Homo sapiens: one gene and its partner. The protein of the gene in region 1 interacts with the protein of each later gene in a pairwise test. Each region holds a gene or a part of one and is shown on either strand. Other genes may lie near its edges.

Evidence for each region.
Region 2: the proteins of MKRN1 (region 1) and SLC13A1 interact in a protein complementation assay, tested with the Homo sapiens proteins (one large-scale study listed by BioGRID).

Annotation. Positions count from the first base shown.
Region 1 is NC_000007.14:140,469,346-140,473,163, reverse strand, and holds part of MKRN1 (E3 ubiquitin-protein ligase makorin-1), read left to right. Parts: intron 1-1,152; coding exon 1,153-1,281; intron 1,282-3,818. UniProt on the Homo sapiens protein: E3 ubiquitin ligase catalyzing the covalent attachment of ubiquitin moieties onto substrate proteins. These substrates include FILIP1, p53/TP53, CDKN1A and TERT.
Region 2 is NC_000007.14:123,197,157-123,201,595, reverse strand, and holds the start of SLC13A1 (solute carrier family 13 member 1), read left to right. Parts: upstream 1-1,626; 5' UTR 1,627-1,649; coding exon 1,650-1,748; intron 1,749-4,439. UniProt on the Homo sapiens protein: Sodium:sulfate symporter that mediates sulfate reabsorption in the kidney and small intestine. Can also mediate the transport of selenate and thiosulfate.

The DNA of each region.
Region 1 (3,818 bases):
TGTTTGGAGGAGAAATTCTTTGACGTAGACTATATCTTTTTTTCTTTTTCTTTTTCTTTTTCTTTTTGAGATGGAGTCTCTCTGTTGTCCAGGCTGGAGCGCAGTGGCTCAATGGCACGATCTCGGCTCACTGCAATCCCTGCCTCAGCCTCCCGAGTAGTTGGGATTACAGGTGCCTGCCACCATGCCCGGCTAATTTTTTGTACTTTTAGTAGAGATGGGGTTTCACCATATTAGCCAGGATGGTCTTGATCTCCTGACCTCGTGATCCATCCGCCTTGGCCTCCCAAAGTGCTGGGATTACAGGTGTGGGCCACCACGCCTGGCCCTTTTTTTTTCTTTTTGTTATGTAAGTTAAACAGTTTTCATAATCTAAGGCGTATTATTATTACATTTTTTTGAGACAGAGTCATAGTCGTGCTCCATCACCCAGGCTGGAATGTCAAAATAGTTCGTTGTAACAATGCAAAAACAAGGGCCAGGCGCAGTGGCTCACGCTTGTAATCTCAGCACTTTGGGAGGCCGAGGTGGGCAGATCACAAGGTCAGGAGATCGAGACCATCCTGGCTAACATGGTGAAACCCTGTCTCTACTAAAAATACAAGAAATTAGCCGGGCGTGGTGGCGGCGCCTGTAGTCCCAGCTACAAAGCAAAAACACAATGCAAAAACGGACTAATACACTTGCTTTACTCCTGTTTTCTTATCACCTTCTTTTTATTTTTTTTTTTTGAAATGGAGTCTTGCTCTGTCTCCCAGGCTGGAGTGCAATGGCGCGATCTCGGCTCATTGAAACCTCAGCCTCCCACGTGTAAGCAGTTCTCCTGCCTCAGCCTCCTGAGTAGCTGGGATTAACATGTGTGCCACCACACCAGCCAATTTTTGTATTTTTAGTAGAGACGGGGTTTCACCATGTTGCCCAGGCTGGTCTCGAACCGCTGGTCTTAGACCCCTGACCTCAGGTGAGCCACTCACCTCAGCCTCCCAAAGGTACTGGGATTACAGGCATGAGCCACCATGCCTGGCCCTTTCTTTGTGTTTATTTCGTATGTTTGTGTATTTACTGGTTGAATATATTAGTCATGAATACTAATTAGTTTTAATATTTTCAAGGATTGGTTTTAATCCAGTTTTGTGGTCTTTCGTCTCACAGGTATTTTATGCATGGGGTTTGTAAGGAAGGAGACAACTGTCGCTACTCGCATGACCTCTCTGACAGTCCGTATAGTGTAGTGTGCAAGTATTTTCAGCGAGGGTACTGTATTTATGGAGACCGCTGCAGGTAAGAATTTGTTTATAAATTTGTTCAGGGGTGGGTTGGAGGAAAAAGGTAAAAGACATACTTCTGATAGCTTTATATGTCACTGATTAAAAATAATGCTTTGAAAATGACTCTTGGCTGGGCAGTGGCTCATGCCTATAATCCCAGCACTTTGGGATGCTTAGGTAGGAGGATTGCTTGATCTTGGAAGTTTGAGACCAGCCTGGGTAACCTAGTGAGACCTCATGTCTACAAAATATAGAAAAATTAGCTGGGCATGGTGGTGTGCGTCTGTAATCCCAGCTACTTCGGAGGCTGAAGCAGGAGAATTGCATGAACCCGGGAGGTGGATGTTGCACTGAGCCAAGAGCCCGCCACTGCGCTCCAGCCTGGGCAACAGAGCGAGACTCCACCTTAAAAAAAAATTGGGTAGGGCTTTTCTATCCTCCTAGTTCAGAAATGACTAGGTGTATTATCTGTGGATGTTAAACAAGTAACCCTCAAATTTATTTTTTATTTATTTTTTTGAGACAGGGTCTTACTGTGTTGCCCAGGCTGGAGTGCAGTGGTGTGGTCACTTCTCACTGCAGCCTCAACTTACCAGGCTGAAATGATCCTCTCACCTCAGCCTCCCAAGTAGCTGGGACCACAGGGATGCACCACCTCATTTATTTAGTTTTTTGTAGAGATGGGGGTCTTAATATGTTGCGTAGGCTGGTCTCAGATTCCTGGGCTCAAGCAATCTTCCTGCCTTGGCCTCCGAAAAGTGTTGGGATTACAAGCATGAGCCCCAGAAACTGGCCCATCCCCAAATTTAGTAGGTTAAAACAGTGAACATTTATTATCTCAGTTTCTGGGGTTCCGGATTCTGTGAGTGCCTTAGCTGGATGGTTCTATCTCAGAGACACTTATGAGATGGCAGTCAAAATTTTAGCAAGTCATCTGAAGACTTGATGGGGACTCCAGGATATTTTTTGTGTGTGTGAGACCGAGTCTTGTCCCTCTGTTGCCCAGGCTGGAGTGCAGTGGCAAGATCTCGGCTCACTGCAACCTCTGCCTCCCAGATTCAAGCAATTCTCCTGCCTCAGTTTCCCAAGTAGATGGGATTACATCTGCGTGCCACTATGCCCGGCTAATTTTTTATATTTTTGGCAGAGACAGGGTTTCATCATGTTGGCCAGGCTAGTCTCGAACTCCTGACCTCAAGTGATCTGCCCACCTCGGCCTCCCAGAGTGCTGGGATTACAGGTGTGAGACACAGTGCCCAGCCAGCATTGTTTTTTGTTTGTTTGTTTGGGTTTTTTTGTTTGTTTTGTTTAGGATGGAGTCTTGCTCTTGTCGCCCAGGCTGGAGTGCAGTGGCGCAATTTCGGCTCACTGCAACCTCCGCCTCCTGGGTTCAAGCGATTCTCCTGCCTCATCTTCCGGAGTAGCTGGGATTACAGGCGCCCGCCACCACACCTAGCTAATTTTTGTATTTTTAGTAGAGACGGAGTTTCACCATGTTGGCCAGGCTGGTCTCGAACTCCTGACCTCAGGTGATCCACGCGGTTCGGCTTCCCAAAGTGCTGAGATTACAGCCGTGAGCCATGGTGCCTAGCCCAGTATTGTTTTTAAGAGGTCTTACTCTCATGACTGTTGGCAGGAGACTTTGGTTTCTCACCACTTGGCCTTTTTTTTTTTTCAAGACGGAGTTTTGCTGGTCACCCAGGCTGGAGTGCAATGGCATGATCTCAGCTCACTGCAACCTCTGCCTCCCGCGTTCGAGAGATTCTCCTGCCTTGGCCTCCAGAGTAGCTAGGATTACAAGCATGCACCACCACACCTGGCTAATTTTTTTTTTTTTTTTTTTTTTTTTGAGACAGAGCCTAGCTCTGTCGCCAGGCTGGAGTTCAGTGGCACAGCCTCAGCTCACTGCAACCTCCACCTCCCAGGTTCAAGTGATTCTCCTGCCTCAGCCTCCCGAGTAGCTGGGATTACAGGCATGCACCGCCACACTCAGCTAATTTTTGTATTTTTAGTAGAGATGGGGTTTCACCTTGTTGAAAGGATGGTCTTGATCTCCTGACCAGCCCACACCAGCCTCCCAAAGTGCTGGGATTGTAGGCATGAGCCACCGCGCCCGGCCCACACCCCACTAACTTTTGTATTTTTAGTAGAGACGGGGTTTCACTATGTTGGCCAGGCTGGTCTCAAATTCCTGAGCTCAGGCAGTCCACCTGCCTTTGCCTCCCAAAGCGCTGGGATTACAGGCGTGAGCCACCCCGCCTGGCCCACATGGGCCTTTTCATAGGGATACTTTAGTATCCTTGCAGCTTGGCAGCTAGCTTTCCCCAGAGCAAACAATTTAACAGAGGAGGCAAGGAAAAGCCACAATGCCTTTTATGACCTAGTGTCAGAAGTCATATACTGTTATTTCCACTGATTCTGGACTAAGTTACTAAGTCCAGCCCACATGTAAAGGGAGAGGATTGGGCTCTACCTTTTGAAGGAAGGCATATCAAAGAGTTTTGTATGTACTTTAAACCACTACCCTCGGTAAGACTTTTGACAGTGTCA
Region 2 (4,439 bases), about 17 Mb from region 1:
AATGTCACACAAATGCCTTTTCGTTTTTTGGTGTCATCTCACAAAGTAAAATCCTCTAAGATGAAAAAGTGAGGCTCAAATCATCTCACCAGGTAGCTGAAGGAAATCTGAGAGCAAAAATGGTTTCTTCAAAAAGTAGTAGTTTAAAAAAAAGCATGCAATGAACTAGAGAACTGTACAGGGTGTTAATGGAAAAAAATAAGTACTACAACTGGTTTGAGTAAATCAGTTCATAAATTAATTTTAACACTATATACTATTGTTACCTATTTATTATCACTTACCATTTTATTACAATATCATTTGTAATTATCCTTTCATCTAAGAAATTTAAGATATAATAAGACTTTCTGGTTTGGAAACTTTTTTTCTGTTTACTATTCTGATTTTCCTGAATAACTGTCCATAATAGATGTTTAGGAATTTAAATTTTTTACAGGAAAAAAATGCTTTCTCATTTACATTAATATGGTGAGTACTGGTGAGAGAATTGTTTCTCTTGATGGAAAGAGAATGCAGAGTTATATTAGTATGAAGTTAGAAATAAGACCTAAATGCTAACTATAGATTACATAAGAGTAAGGTTATCTATGTCAAGAGATATTGACTATAAATTCTAGTAGGGCTGGGAATGTGTTTCATTTATATCTAAAGACAAGTAGTAGTTGCTAACTTGAGGTTTACTGGATCATCAATTTACAACACAACGTGAAAAAAACCAGGGTCCTTATCCCTGAAGATTTTCAAAATACATCCTCCATATCACTGTTGGAACAGTCTCCAACTTCCCATGTGCTCATGTGCACAAACCATACACACACACACATCACACACCACTTGAATGTCCCTAATCACTCATCTTTATGCAGATTCCCTGATAATTATGTAGTCTGTATCAGCACAACAGTATCAAATCAAGCCTTCAAAGGTCTTAAAATAGAGGGTTTATATAACACTTCATGGTTATTTTGGTTTTCTATCAAAAGAGACAATAGGGTCCAAGAAATACACAAAACTTTGCTTCTAACCAACAGGGACATTTGCTATAAATTTTGTAGAAGACCCTTGCAATACATTGTCCAAGAAGTCCGTTAAAAATCCATCTCTAAACAAAAAAGTTTCCCTTTCACTGTCATACACTGAAATTCCAACTATTAGTTGCTATTTCAATTTACACACTGAAAACATACTTCCTTAGAAAGGGCCATGGAGGCTGCCTGTGGAGACTCACTCATGGCACCATGACAATGTGGTAACTACTCCAGTTAGGGAGTCTGGAAGTCAGAGGACATCAAAAGGGTTGGAAGTGCCTCATTGTGAACAAACAACCAGCTTCATGGTTTTGCCTTCTCCTAGGCTTGTCCAGTCTGTATTTCAGTGAATGTGATCAAAGAAAGCAGGGAAAGAACAGTTTTTCCTTGAAAACCCAGAGGAGCAAATGGTCTTTGATTTCTCATGAAAAGTCTTGGGCCTATCTCTTCATGTTAATTGTGATAGTAAAACAATAAAAAATGAGATTTAATTTTAACTTGTGTTGGTCGGTCTAGGGCAGTGAGTGAAGGTGACAGGCTGGAAAAATATTAATCCAAGTTGGTTATTTAACATCTGCTTTATTTGGAGGACACTATTGAAGCCACCTGCTCAGGACAATGAAATTCTTCAGTTACATTCTGGTTTATCGCCGATTTCTCTTCGTGGTTTTCACTGTGTTGGTTTTACTACCTCTGCCCATCGTCCTCCACACCAAGGTGAGTGAACCTGGAGAACAGACTGGTGGATTTCCTGACTTATTTAATTGTCCTTTATTAAAACTGTTTGCTGTTTAACTGCCTGGCTCAGAGCTGAATGAATGTTGACCCTTCATACCTAAAGTCAGGATGGTTGTACATGATGTTTTGGCCATTTTCTCCCTTTTTAATAATTAACATTGGTTGATTCTTAGTATGATTAAACATAATTAAATAGAATATTCAATCAGAATTGTTCTCTGCCTATCAACTAGATGAGAGGAAGAACAAAAGAAGCACAACCTTTGAGATTTTGCAGTTCAAGTTGTCATTCTCCAGGGAGCATGCATGGCTAGTGCAATGCCTTCCCCTGAGAATAGGCAGCAAAGCAATTGCTGGGGACAGAGGTGGAAGAACAAGGGAAATCCTAGGTCCAGCACAGACTAATTTACTTCTCAGCTCTGTGGCTTTGTCACAGAACTTCCTGGAAATTTAGTTCCCTTGTAGGAAAAGAAGACATTGAAAGCTTAGAGTAATTTCCCTTGGTCAATCAGAAAATCTAATAAAGCATTTACCATGTTCTGATAATTCCAGGTTTTGTTTCATTGTGGTGTACTTGTAAGCATTTTTGTTTGCTTTTTAAGAGTAGTCAGGGCATTAAGTCCAGAACAATAAGCTCAAGCATGTTTAATTTCTTGGTAAAATGATTTGAATCAGCAAACATTTAATGAGCACCTTCTCTGTGCCAGGCACAAACGTCACTTGGTAGTAAGAGGACAGGCTTTGGAGCCAGATTCTCTGCTTCAGGTCCCAGATTTACCACTTACAAACTGTGTCACCTGGGCATGCTACTTAATGTCTCTGTGCTTCTGTTTTCTCATATGAAAGATGTGTATAGTAGCAGGCTTGTTGTGAGAATGAAATGAAGAAACACTCTTCAAACACTTATTTGGAGCAGTGCCTGGCACACAGTAAGTGTGCAGTGCCAGTCTCCTTGGGTGTGTTGACTCCACAGGTGGGGCAATTCCCAGCACTCCATTATGCACAGTCCCTCCTCTTAATGGGCAAGAACCCTGCTGATGCTCTCCTCTAACAAGTACTAATCGAGGTTACACCAGTCTGGGTTATAATAGAATCATATTAACTATAATATGGTGGTCCCTCCAGCCTCTGCCAGAAGCCTTTGCCAGTGATCCTGGGACCTCTGAAGGGAATTCATGTGAGCTAATAAAGTCCTTTTGGACACTGTCAAGGCCTATCCTACCTGCAAAGCTGGAGAAGGGACTGGCCCCTGCTGTGGCATCTGTGGGTTGTCTCCCACCAGGTGCAATCTTCTAGCTGCAGCATTCTTGGCTTATCTCTCCTTGTGCTGAGGTCTCACAGAGCTACATGGAGGGAAGGGAAAAACTCCCCACCCCTTTTGGTCCAAATTTCTAAGCCCTCAAATTCGTACAGAATTTGTAAATAATAATAATAACTAAAAGACCTTGTCAGCTGTTTTTGGCTTTGTTGGTTTTGTTTTTCAAATTCTGTGTGACTAACCCTTTCCCTCCCACCCTGCCACTCCCACCCCGGCTCCTTGTGAGGTCTCCTATATGAATCTCTGGCAGCCCCATCAGATGACAAATTCCAGCACAGAAATAGTGCTCTATTCTGAATTCTCACCCCATCTCCTTGCCAAGAACTTCATCTAAGACACATTATGATCTTCACTTTGCAACTCTCCTGGTCCCATGAGTCCTCTAGATTTGGCTGAATCCTATCATGACCATATCCTGCTTCATACCTGGAGCCCTGCTATATTTTAATATTTTTGAGTTAGTCTCAGCATACATTCTTACTTATGGCAGAGAAAGTAGGAAATTAAACTAGTCAAGACAAATTTAGGTCATTACCACATATCATCTGTGCTGCTCTTTTTACATATAAATGCATGACAATTTGATTATCCTCCATAATTTTCTGAGAAATGAATATAAACTCTTTGAAAAACAAAATGAGTAAATAAATCAAAAGCAATCATTTTAGTACATGATTCATTCACTGGGAAGTGTATTATTTTTAAGAAATGCAGCCACTGATTATTTTTTCCAAGGTGCTATGACAAAAGAACATTAGGTCCATGCAGGAACCAGGTGTCTGGCACCAAGTTGCATCTGGTGAGCTGGTTCCTCTTTCCTTTCCTCCTAATCAACTCATTTGTTAAAACTCAATTAATGTTAATGGAGGATTTATTCCTAGTATAATAACATGATATTATTTTTTGGCCACTTTAAACATATATTTAATCATTCAATAAACTGCTAATTAAACTGAAAGACTATTATTTTAACTTGCTTACAATGAAAGCAAATTATTTTTTTAAAGAATGTAGGCCTTTGGAGGGTATAAAATTTAAGGAGAAGTTTACTTTAACATAAATGCAAGTCAATTTACTGTTAACTTTTAGGTTACCAAACTGAAGAAGTCTATGCTTCTAAAGACACAATATTAGATTAATTAAAACATTCAATGGAAACAAAAATCCAAGTTTCTCTTTCAAAACCACAATTATAAAAAATAATTCCATGTGGGGCTATAATCTACAGGATGTAGAGCCAACAAACAATGAATTATTGACTGATTTCTTTCCTTCATTTTCCTGCTTGTTATTGAGTTGTTCAATAGACTGGCCTTAACTTATGTCTTAATTCCATCTAAAGTGAAAAAAGT